Regions from separate parts of the Homo sapiens genome. Here region 2 is linked to region 1. Evidence: fine-mapped expression QTL. Tissue or cell type: whole blood. Region 1 holds a variant in brackets; the other region holds the start of a gene. All regions are shown on one strand. Distances are between the middles of the regions.

Region 1 (6,057 bases):
GTGAACCACCGCACCCAGCCTACAATTTCCAATTTTTTGAATTGTCCTGTCAGTCTTTGCTTCACATTTATTGAAGCTCTGCTATTAGTTCCAAACAATTTTTTTTATTTTGAGACGGAGTCTCGCTCTGTTGCCCAGGCTGGAGTGCAGTGGCACGATCTCGGCTCACTGCAACCTCTGCCTCCCAGGTTCAAGCGATTCTACTGCCTCAGCCTCCTGAGTAGATGGGATTACAGATGCGCACCACGACGCCTGGCCAATTTTTGTATTTTTAGTAGAGATGGGGTTTCACTATGTTGGTCACACTGGTCTCGAACTCCTGACCTCGTGATCCGCCTGCCTTAGCCTCCCACAGTGCTGGGATTACAGGCGTGAGCCACTGCGCCTGGCCAGATTCATACAAATTTAAGACTGTTATATCTTCTTGATGATCTAACCCAATTATTATAAAATGTCCTTTATTTTTTGCAATCAGCATATTTGAACAGCTACAATTTCCTATAACAAAATTATAGGAGGTGCACATTATTTCCTATAACAAACATGTAGAGCATGTGCTTGGAGTACATGTAAAAGCAAACACAAAAGCAAAAAACAAAAAACATGTAGAGCAAGCATTAACTTTACATTAAACAGGACATATTGTAAGAGATAAATAACTTTTTCAGGGTTAAAAATCAGGATATCACAGGTGAATTTCTTGTAAACAAACTAGGCAGGACTGAATTTCATGCTGGTAGTAAGATAAGCAAGAAAGGACATTCATACCAACCTAGCTAATGTTAATTTTCTCAGTGTCTTTGAGGTAAATACTGTCTAACTTTTACTTATTTTTATGACAGGACATTATGGCACGCTCAATGCTTTGTTTTCTCAAAGCTCTTATGCCAAAATTTTCTTCTTTCTCTCAATAGGTGGATAGTTCCTTAACATGATAAAAGATGTCTACTTCAGTCCTTAAAACCAGCATCATGCTTAATGGGAAAATTCTAAAGATATCTCATTAAAGATAGGAATAAGACATAAAAGTCTACTGTCATTATTATTATTAAATATTTTACTGGAGATACTAGCCAAAACAATTAGATATGAGAAAGTAGAGGTATAAAACTTGGAAAGAAGTAGGTAAAACTATTTCAATGATAAGATTGCAATCTTAGAAATTCTACCAGAATGAACTCCAAACAATAAAGCAACTTAGTAAGGCAGTGGATCACAATATTAATATGCAGGAAATGATACTTTCATGTATACATACAACTACGATGTGTAGTAACCTCATTCAGATTTGATAGTTATAGGATCCTGCTGCTCTTGAGTGAATCTCAAAGCAGCCATTTAACCACTTAACAGTAGCCCTCATACAGCATTATAGTCAGCCCCTCCTCTCTTCACCTCCTACCCCTTCCCTGGCTCCTTAGTTTAAAAGTATCAAAACAGACCCTTTCTTTAAATATATAGAAAAAGAGAGGTAGAATGTGTATTTTGATGGGTAATTTTGGCTATAAGAAACAGAATCCCTGACTTAAGGTGAGTTAATAATAACTAAAATTTATTAAGCACTTAAAATACTTACAATATGACCAGCACTATTTTAACCCATTTAATCTTTATGGCATCTCTATCAGAAAACAGTAAGGATCCCAGCACTCTGGGAGGCCAAGGTGGGTGGATCACTGAGGTCAGGAGTTCAAGAGAAGCCTGGCCAACATGGTGAAACCCCTTCTCTACTAAAAATACAAAAATTAGCCAGGCGTGGCAGTGCATGCCTGTAGTTACAGCTACTTGGGAGGCTGAAGCAGGAGAATTGCTTGAACCCGGGAGGCAGAGGTTGCAGTGAGCTGAGATCATGCCACTGCATTCCTGCCTGGGCGACAGAGTGAGACTCAGTCTCAGAAAAACAGAAAACAAAAACAATAAGGAAACTTATTAGACATTCCTACAAGGCATTCAGATACAGGGTGAGCTCCAGGTTTGGAATGATGTCACCAAGGACATTGTTTTATAACTTGTTCAGTTGTCCTCAGCATTGGTCCATCAGTTTTATTCCTTGTGATGGGCAAGATGGCTACTAATGACAGTGTGGGATAGATGTTTCGACGTCAAGAGGACAGTATATCAGAAACTTTCTCCTGAGCATGAAATAGAGGTCCTTTCCTTCAGTCAGATTGCGCCAACCTGGGTCATATACTCGTTCCTTGATTAGCAACTATTTCCAAAAAAATTCTGTGTGAAGACTGGTTTAATCAGTATCATTTTGATTCTGGGAACAGGGCAGCTATCTGAATAAAATAAGGATTTTGGTACAAAGGAGTTAGAGGAAAATGAATATTGGATAGGTAACATTATTCACTATAGAGTTTTGTTTTTAATGTAAAATTTAGACGACAAAAAAATTCTGTGTGATGACTGGTTTAATCAGTATCATTTTGATTCTGGGAACAGGGCAGCTATCTGAATAAAATAAGGATTTTGGTACAAAGGAGTTAGAGGAAAATGAATATTGGATAGGTAACATTATTCACTATAGAGTTTTGTTTTTAATGTAAAATTTAGACGAAAACTTTAGCAGATTTAAGTCCAGTGATAGAAATGTTAAGTTCTGAGTTTTCAAGCAAATGGTCAGAAAAGCCTATTTAATGTTTTATTACTTACAAAGTAAACATATTTCTCTTTCTGGTACAGAACGGGAGCTAATTGATCTCGGGTTCATTTTCATGAACGTTGTATGAAATGCACATATACCAAACCTCATAAGCTTTTTATTAGTTGATTTATTCTTTGAAATATTAAGCTTGGTGTAAGGTATTATAACCTCAATCTCTTTGAAAATGTAATAAGTCAATAATCAATGTTGCATCAATGAATATTACTCAGTGGATGCCTATTTTATTTCTTCTTTTTCTCTAAGAACCATTTAAATAGTCCTTATGGCCGAGCACTTCACAATCTGATTAGTTTCTATTAATTCTTTGGAAAAGAAACATTCTGGGAAGTCAGAATTCAGCGGTAGGTTGCTTTGATAATGTGCTCATTTAGCTAGTGGATTCCAGAGTGATAGAATGTATGTTTGGCAACCTAATTGTTGTGGAGGAAGAAAAGAACTTCTGTTAGAAGTTTTTAAAAAAGTTTAAAAATTGTTTTTACCTCATCAAAAGTTTGATGTCTTGTGAGTTTTATAGCATGCATAATATATTAATGCCATACATGACACATGTAAATATATATATATTTTTTCTGATAGGGATGTGTGAGCAAGAGTTTAAAGAAGAATGCCCCAGTCTAAAGTTAATTAGTCTTGGAGTGATGGCTTCGCAGAGGAAAGATACTGGATTTCAAGCTTGACATTAAGGTGATAATAGTGGTGACTATGGAATAATCAATATAAAAATAATAACAGCTAACAGTTACTGAGCGCCTACAAACTGCCAGACACTACTCTAAGTGCTTCACATCCTCATAACAAATTTATGAGGTAAATGCTATTATTATCCACCAGCCTTCTGAAATTTTCTTACCCCGTTACTCCCTGGTGTTAACTGGGTACTTAATTTGTCGAATAAAATAAAATTTAGTGCTGCCAAATTTGTCAGCTGAACGGGGCGGCAGGAATTTCAGTGCTAGAGTGGGGGGCCAGACGGCCCGGGGCTTCGTGTCCTTGGAGGCCAGCGGAAGC[G/C]CCGCATACCTGTGAGGAGCAACGTGAGCCGGTGGCTTATATTTCCTGGGCTAGTGCTACTGGACTGAATGCATTTGCAATAACCGGACGCAGAAAAAAAAAAAAAAAGCGGGGACCAGGGGAGGCGAAACCCTTCCCGGCGCGAGTCCGAGCGTCTGAGAAGCAGAAGCCACACGTCCCGGCGACCTAAGTTCTGGATCAGCCGGCCGGAGGACCCGTGTTAGCATTTACAATCCGAGGTGAGCTGAAGCCTCCGGTTGTCCCGGTTCGACGCTCTAGCCCTGCGAGCAGCCGACGCCGGAAGTCTCTACTGCTCCCCGCTGGCGCGCAGGACCGCGGGCATTTACCCGTGCTTTCCCAAGCCTGGAAGAACTCGTCATGCTCTTTGTAGCGTGGTGCTTCTGTTGCTCACAGGTTAGTCTCCCGCGGTATAAGAGTCTCCGTCTTCCCCCCAGCAAGAAGCGTTTGTTCCTGCAATTCGGGGGGCCGCCTTTGCGCGCGGGGTGCGCTGCTTCTTGGAGAGTTCCCTCACGGGTCACATCGCGGAGGTTCGCGCCGGCGCCGGGTCGCGGCCTCCCTGCGCAGCTTCTTTGGCACCTGGTAACCTTCAGTGGCTCCGTCCGCTCGGAGTTAGGAGGCTGTGTCGAGCTAACCTTGACCTTGTCCTGCAGTTTTTGCTGACCATCCCCAACAGCACACTGTAAAGAGTTAGGGTCCTCTCGAAGAGTTGGGACTGGGCACTTTTGTTGGTAGTGCTAAATTTCAACACCCTGAGGAGTACGCTGCCCAAATTATTGTAGGAAAGAATTACCTGGTTTAGTGGTTATAATACTTTTTGTCCCCACCACACTTGAATAACAGAAAAACCCTCCCAACAGGGGCTGACTGCAAAAGTGATTTTCTGTGTAGGGGACATTGGATGTATTTATGTATATATCAGTGCCTATCAGTCTGTATGTGTGTTTGGGGGTGGATGCTGTGTAATTTAAAAAAATCTATGGAGATTCTGATAATTTGATAACCTGTTTCTCCGGTCTTCCCCTGATTCCTCCCCATTCTCCCCGGAGGGCTATTGCTTTATTTCTGAGGTGGCTCACGTTTGGATAGAAGTAGCAACTCTCCGCTTACACCTGCACGTTTAAAACGCATATCAGATTGTGTTATTTCTGTCCTCAGAATCTTCCTGGCCTTCCCGTTGCTTTCAGGATAATACACATTTCTTAGCCTAACTTCAAGGGCCTACAGGGTCTTGATTCTGCTGAGTTTTTCAGTCTTTGCTACTTTCATGGAAAACACACCTGCAGGTACACTCATATTATGCTCCCACCATGCCAGTCTACGGTAATTTAATAACTTTAGATATGGCAAAGTTTTATATGGTTTACTCAAGTTTTAATTTTTGTTCTAGCATTTAGCCAAAATCGATTGAATTCATAATATTGCTAGGCACTGTTTTAAAAACGGGATAAAATGAAAACAAAACAAAACACAAAACAAAAGTCTTCAGTCCTTTAAAAAAATAAAACAGCTTCCTGACACATAGTTCACCTACCGTAGAGTTCACCATTTAAAACGTAGCGGTGCCTCACGCCTGTAATCCCAGCACTTTGGGAGGCCGAGGCGGGTGGATCACGAGGTCAGGAGATCAAGACCGTCCTGGCTAACACGGTGAAACCCCGTCTCCACTAAAAATACAAAAAATTAGCCGGGCGTGGTGGCGGGAGCCTGTAGTCCCAGCTACTTGGGAGGCTGAGGCAGGAGGATGGTGTGAACCCGGGAGGTGGAGCTTGCAGTGAGCCGAGATTGCGCCACTGCACTCCAGCCTGGGCGAGAGAGCTAGACTCCATCTCAAAAAAAAAAAAAAAGAAAGAAAACCTAAAAGTAATTAGTACATTAGTACATTCACAAAGTTGTACAACCATCATCATAAAATATGCTGTAATCTTCTTCACCTTCATTAGTTGGTTTAATTTTCTATTTCAGACAGACTCCAATAAGTTATTCTTGTATTCTTTTGTTCATGTTTAATATGCTGCATTCAGTTTGTGAGAGCCATATTGGAACAATTGAACATTTTCATCACTCCAAAAGGAAACCCTGTACTTATTCAGCAGGCTCACCTGACTTCCCCATCCCCACTCCCCATTCTAAGCCCTAAGCAACTATGAATTGACTGACTGTATATTTGACTATTCTGGATTATTCATGTGAGTGAAATCATACAGCATGTGGTCTTTTTCAACTGGCTTCTTTTACTTAACATTCATGTTCATCTGTGTTGTATTTAATAGCATGTGTCAGTACTTTTTTTTATTGCTGGTTAATCTTTTATGGGTATTACCACGATTTATTTTCCATTAGTTAGTGGACGTTTGGATTGT
Region 2 (6,057 bases), 370 kb before region 1:
CAGAGCCCAGGGACATCTGGGCAGGGGCCTGAGGGACAGAGGTCCCACCCAAAAGGCTGCCAAGCCCTCTCCCTACCCAAAAGAGGCTACAGCACTGAGGGAGCCCACCAATCAAATTGTGAAATTTATAGCAAAAGTGAGGTTCCCATCCAGTGGGGAGCTGAAGGTCTATAGGAAGCAGGGCCCCAGAAACCTGCCTCCCACTCCCTGCCTCCACCCGAGCAGGCAGTCAGAGCCCCATCACCCCAGAGGAGCCCGGCACAAACCTCCCTCCTGGGGTAGCTCCTCGGGGCCAGGGCTGGGGGGTGGGGGCAGTGGCCACTCCAGGGTTTCTGAGGGAGCCAGAATGGGGGGCCTCTTCCCTGACGGGGGCTTCTTGGTGGCCTTGGGTGGCTTCTCTTTGGGCTTCTTGGTGGCCTTGGGTGGCTTCTCCTTGGGCTTCTTGGTGGCCTTAGGTGGCTTCTCCTTGGGCTTCTTGGTGGCCTTGGGTGGCTTCTCCTTCCCCTTCTTGGGCGGCCTGGGGGACCCCTCCAAGGACTCCTTGGGCACCTTGGGGCCTTTGTCTTTCTTGCCTTTCTTCCCTTTGTCTTTGGTCTTTTCCGGAGGCACTGTCCAAGATGCAGACTCGTGTCAAATGAACAGAGCCAGCTCTGTGCCCCCATGAGGCCCCTCTCTAGATGCCCAGAACCTGGGCACAGGGACTCTTGTCAGTTCCCAGTGCGGATCAGCAAACTGAGAGGTTAAGTCATTTGCCCAAGTGGCAAACTGGGATCCGGACCCAGATTTTCTGTCTGCAAGTCTGGGGCTGTGACCACCAATCTCAACCTCTCTAAAGACTGAGCGTAGGGTTCCCAGTTCCCAGGGGGAGGCCCTCATCCCCCCACCTGCCAAAACCTCAATAGGGGTTCCTTACTATCCACTCCTCCACTATTCTGTTCTGGGCACAGAAGGGGCAGAGAGGTGACTGAGCCATCCAGGCCTGGAGGAGCATCTGGTCATCCCTGCCAACTGCCATACAAAGGAAGGGACATGGGCCCAAGACCTTCCCCTGGTCTCCTACGGGGCAAGAAAAGCTTCAAAGAAAAGGGACACTTGGTTGAGTATTGAAGCCCAAAGAAGAGGAAGTGGTCTCCTTTCGAGAAGTAAGGGGTTTGGAATTGATTGGAAGGATAGGGAGTCCTGGGGGGTTCAGGGATCACACAGAGGACAGAAAAGACAGGTAGGGAGCTTGTGGCTGCACACTCATTTCAGAGTCTGGGAGAGGGAGCAGGGACTGGTTGTGAGGATTCCCCATGGGAATCCTCCCAGGACCCTAAGCAGGAGCTGCAAGTGCTGTTGAGAACCTGATGAGAGGTGGGGAGCATGAGGGAAGTTTGGCAGAAACACAGGAAAGCTACCAAATGCAGACAGCCAGGGGACGCAGGGCTGCTAGAGCGGTGCCCCAGAGCCAGGAGAGCAAGCCTGGAAGGAGAGCCAGAGGCAGGAGGGGCACAGGCAGCCCAGGGTGTGGGAAGCAGCCAGGAAAGATCTAGAGCTGGGGTGGCAGGGGAGGGGCTGCTGACATCAGGAATGTTGGATGGTGCCTTGGAATCTCCTGGGAGACAGGGATCACAAGACCCTCTGCCACCTTCCAGAGGGCCACGATGAAAACAGCTAAGATTTACTGACAACTGATTATGCAAGAGGCCGTGGGTTAAATGCTTCAGTGATGCATCACCTCATCTAATTTCCTGTACTAATGTAGGACCACCCATTGCTCACCACCACCTGAAGCCCTGTGCTCACCACCACCTGAAACTCTCTCACCTACGTGAGACCTCCTGGAGTAGGAGGGCAAAGGCAGGAGGGAGGGACGACGTGAAGCTGTGCCACCAACAGGGAGAGTGGTCCCATTAGTATGGCAGGGGGTGACACAGCACAGTCCCCTGTGGCTCAAGCCTAGTACCTGTCGCGTACTGGAGGAATGGGGATAAGCGACCCGTACAACCACAGCACCAACCCTAGAGCCACCGGCCCCCAAAAGCGGCCCTGCCGCCCGGGTGCTGGATGTGCCTCCACGCCAGCGCTGACCTCGGCCTAGCACAGGGTCCCTCCAGGCATCTGGGCTCGCGTGCGCATTAGTAAGCCAGCCATTCCTCCCCTAGCAGACTGGGGAGTGGCCAGACCCTACCGAATCCCCCTGTTCCCACCTGAGATGCCAGCCCCCCACACCCCCGCCCTGCCCTGGGCTCTTACCTTCTGCGGCCGTCCCTGGCCGCTTCCCTGGCTTGCCCCCCGCCTGGGCTTTTCGGACCCGCGGGGTGGGCTCGGGAGGCGGCGGGGCCTCCACGTCGTCCTCCCGGGGCTCAGGTTCTAGCTCTGACAGGAAGCCCTCGAGGAACTCCTCGATCTCGTCGTCGGTCAGCACCGTCTGCGGGCGCCCTCCAGGGCACAGGGCCAGCAACGCCAGGAGGCAGCTGAGCAGGGGCGCCCCGCGCACGGCCGCCATGGCCGCGGCACGCGCGGGGGGCTCCGGGGAGGGCGCGGGGGGTCAGGGGCTCTGGGTCTCTGGGAAAGGGCGGAGAGGGGATCGAGACGGGTGAGGGAATCCAGGAAGGGGCGGGAGAGAGGATGGGGTGAGCGAGGGAATCCGGGAAAGGGAGGGAGAGTGGATTAGGGTGGGCGAGGGGACCCGGGAAGGGGTGCTGGGGGGCTCCGAAGCCAGAGGGGCTCAGGGGTGGTCGGGGCGCTCCGAGGTCCTGGCGGCTAATAGGCGCTCCGGCCCCGCGTGGCGCACTCCCGCGCGGATAGCCGTCTCCAAAGCGCTGGCGGGGCCCGGGGCGGGGGCGCCGGGGCTTCCGGAGCCGGCTCCCCACCCCCGGGGAGGAGGAGGAGGAAGAGAAGGAGGAGCCGAGAGTGGACGGAGGGGCTGCGGGGGGGCGGGGGGCGGGGGGCGGGGGGCTAGGGGCGGGGCAGGCGGGCGGGCGCTGGCGGCGAGCGTCCCAAGCCCGGAGACTTGCGCCTAGGACAGAGGGGCAGGGGGCGGGGCGACTGGGAAGACAGAGGGCCTGAGGGAAGGAAAGGTGGTGGGGAGGGCCTGGGGTGCGGGTCTGAGGGGGCCGACATCCCTCCTCCTTCTGCCCTAGGCACCCCCCTTAAGGCGGGACCCCGAGTCCACCGGGGCTCTGAGCCCTCCGCGGGTGACCAGGAACCCTGGACGGAAAGCCGTGGTGTCAGGCCTCTGAGACCTCTCTCAATTCGGAGGGCCACAGAAAGGCCACCCCATCCTTCCCAGGCTCTGGAGCCTCTGCCCATGGGCCCTGCTGCATCCCAGCGTCAATTCATTCAGTCATCCTACCAACCTCTTCAGGTCGGTGTGGGGCCGGGCCCCGTGCTGGGCCCCAGGGAGGGACAGCACAGTGGGAACTCACTTTCCAGCCAGGAGGCAGGTGCAAAACTGCCCTCAGAGTGGCCAGCTGCCCCGCTGGGGGTAGGAGTCCCATGTAAGGGCATGCCATCCCTCCCCTCCGGGTCCCAACGTGGACAAATAGCCATTTATCACCTTCTTCTTACCAGAACTCATTTTTTAAAAAGTGTCTACCATACCTCCAGCTGCCACATGGACCCAGAGGGCCCAGAGGACCCAGAAGGCAGGTGGATTGAGTGTCAACTGATCCCAGGATCCATCAGGGATGTGCACCTTGGTGCCTGGTGTTTGCCATAAGGCTTCTCCAGGGCAAATGTTGGCTGCCCTACAACGGCCATCAACAGGCAGAGTGGTCCCATTAGTATGGCAGGGCGTGACACAGCACAGTCCCCCGTGACTCAAGCCTAGTCCCTGTCTCATACTGGAGGAATGGGGAGCTAAGGACAGAGCTCCGAGGACATTCCCCCTTAAAGGAATGAGGACACAAGAGAAAGCTCACAGGTAGTCCATGGGCCAAGTGCAGAGGCAGACAGCCCTAAGCCACGATTGTCTGCGGGGTTTGGCCCCAGTGAAGTAGTCAGGTAGGGAAGCCTAGGAGCCCCTGGGATGATTGACAGGGCAGAGTTTGGACCTGGGGTCAAAAGGAAAGAGGAAAAGTGGGTCAGGAAGCACCTGGGTCCCCAGAGCAGCCCCGAGTGAGTTGGAGCAGGCAGCAGCCGGGGAGGCCACAGTGGAGGCTGCTGGGCCTGGGATACATGCCACCCCCTGGGAGCAGGACCACAAGGAGGCCTTGCCTCCTCTCACACCTGGTCCTGCCAAGACCCTGCCTTTGCTTTCTCACTGCATCTCCTTGAAAAAGCAGTGGGACTGTGTCAGGTTCTGGCTCTACCTCCCAGGCACCACATCTCGGCAGGTAGCCTCAGTGCCGTCCACCTGTGTCCCTGTTCTCCTTGTCGTTCATACAGGATCATGCATGTGCTGTGCCTAGCACACATTCTTGGCACTCACACTGCTGCCTTTTAGCTCTCATCATTTGCCCTCAGAGATCAACCTGAGCTGTGCCCACTGGGGCGCTCAGAGCAGACCCTGAGCCCCAACACCCAGGCTCCCTGTGCACCTGAGCCTGCCTCTGCCTGCCACGTGCCCCCAGGCCAGTCCTGGTGGCAGCAAGGATCCGCAAGCTCTCCCCTTTCCTCATCCTCTGCAAAGCTCTGAATCATCTTTCTCAAAACTTGTTCTGGGAATTTGCTCCGTTGCCCCAGTTGAGCATGTCAAGCCCGGCGGCCCAAGGCTGGGGTGAAGCAGCGTGGCACGTCACTTCCCTGGGAACAACTCACACATGGATTGGATTTGGGTCCAACATCCTCTGCCAGGGAAAATAGAAGCCATAAGAAAACAAAAAAGGAACAGAAGGAGGCTTTTCTTCAGTCACAGCGAGTCACCAACAAAAACATGTGCAAAAGCTCTCATGGAGAGCTGGGCCACAAGGAGGGCCATGATGTTGGGGGCCCTCTGACACCAAGGGTGTGGGCAGGTGGATGGGAGGCAGCTGCCCTCCATGCCAGGCTGATGTGCCTCCCTTTGGGTGGTGGGGCTGGGACTCCCACTCCACTTGAAGACCTGCACCAAAAAGTCCTTTAGCCCTGTGCCCAGGCTCTGCCACGGGGCCGGTGAGGGGACTTCTCCCCTCTGCTGCCAGAGTGAAGCCAGTCAGGGGGATGGGAGGCTTGTAGCCAAGAGCACCTAGTGGCTTTCAGGGTCCCTTACCCCTGCCACTTAGCAGGGTCTGCACCTGCATCCAAGTGTTCTCCTGGGCTACAGTGGGGGGCTGGTAGACACTCTGGTGATCCACTTTCAGCTTCCCACATGGATGTGGCAGGGACTGCTTTGGCATTTCCCTACCCCAAGGGACAGCCACTGCGGCAGGACTGGGCTGGGGAGGGTGGGGCCTGCGCTGGGGAGGGTGCCCCCTGTCCCTTGCTGCTGCTGGAATGGGAAGGAGAGTTGTTGAGAGAGCCAGAACTGTCCAAGGGTGGAAGCTGGCGAAACTGACCTGCAGGGAACAGGGAGACAGGGAGCATGGCCCAGTGAGTAGGTCCTATGTAGCTCTGAGGCCATCAACCCTGCCATGAGGGCTGAGACCCCAAGAGAGAAGTTGAGGTTGGGTCAGGGGCCTGTTAGTGCCAGCTGAGGAGGGGGACAGGCCAGCCTCCTCCCACTGGGACCCAAGCTATAGCTCCTGAGCCTCCAGAGCTGCCTGGTGCCTCAACCTGGTCAGAGGTGGAAACTCACCTGCCAGCAGGCCCAGTGTGCCTGAGTTCTGACTGTGGGGATCTGCAGGGCACAGAAGGATAAGAGGTCATCAGGGCCTGGGGACAGGCAGGAGTGGCAGGGTCTGGGAGGCTGGGAGCAGACCCTCCCAACCTGCCCCATGGCCTCTGTGGCCCCCAGGACCCCCATGGCAGCAGCTCAGACACGGGTTGTGCCTCAGAAGGAAGTGAAGCTGTGTGTACCGAGATGGCCCAGCAAACCCTTTGTATGTAAACTTCCGCCACAGCCCAGCTGTCCAGCACCAGCATGTGTATCTGGGGGAGGGGGATAAATAGAAGGTCTGGGAGGCCTGGGATCTGGCCAGCAGGCTACTGGGATCA

Evidence for each region. PIP is the estimated chance that this variant, and not a neighbour inherited with it, causes the effect.
Region 2: it holds the start of AEBP1, and the variant in region 1 is fine-mapped to the expression of AEBP1 in whole blood (TOPMed, PIP above 0.99).

The regions. Positions count from the first base shown.
Region 1 is chr7:43,727,462-43,733,518 of GRCh38, reverse strand. It overlaps COA1 (cytochrome c oxidase assembly factor 1), which reads left to right and starts at 3,996. Exons shown (of 6, transcript NM_018224.4): 1 at 3,996-4,090. RefSeq lists enhancers at 3,686-3,885, 3,252-3,980, 3,981-4,710. The variant G/C (reference allele first, on the strand shown) is at 3,677.
Region 2 is chr7:44,101,097-44,107,153 of GRCh38, reverse strand. AEBP1 (AE binding protein 1) reads right to left here and starts at 2,809. Exons shown (of 21, transcript NM_001129.5): 1 at 2,236-2,809; 2 at 267-608. The coding sequence starts at 2,488. RefSeq lists enhancers at 5,355-5,854, 5,855-6,057.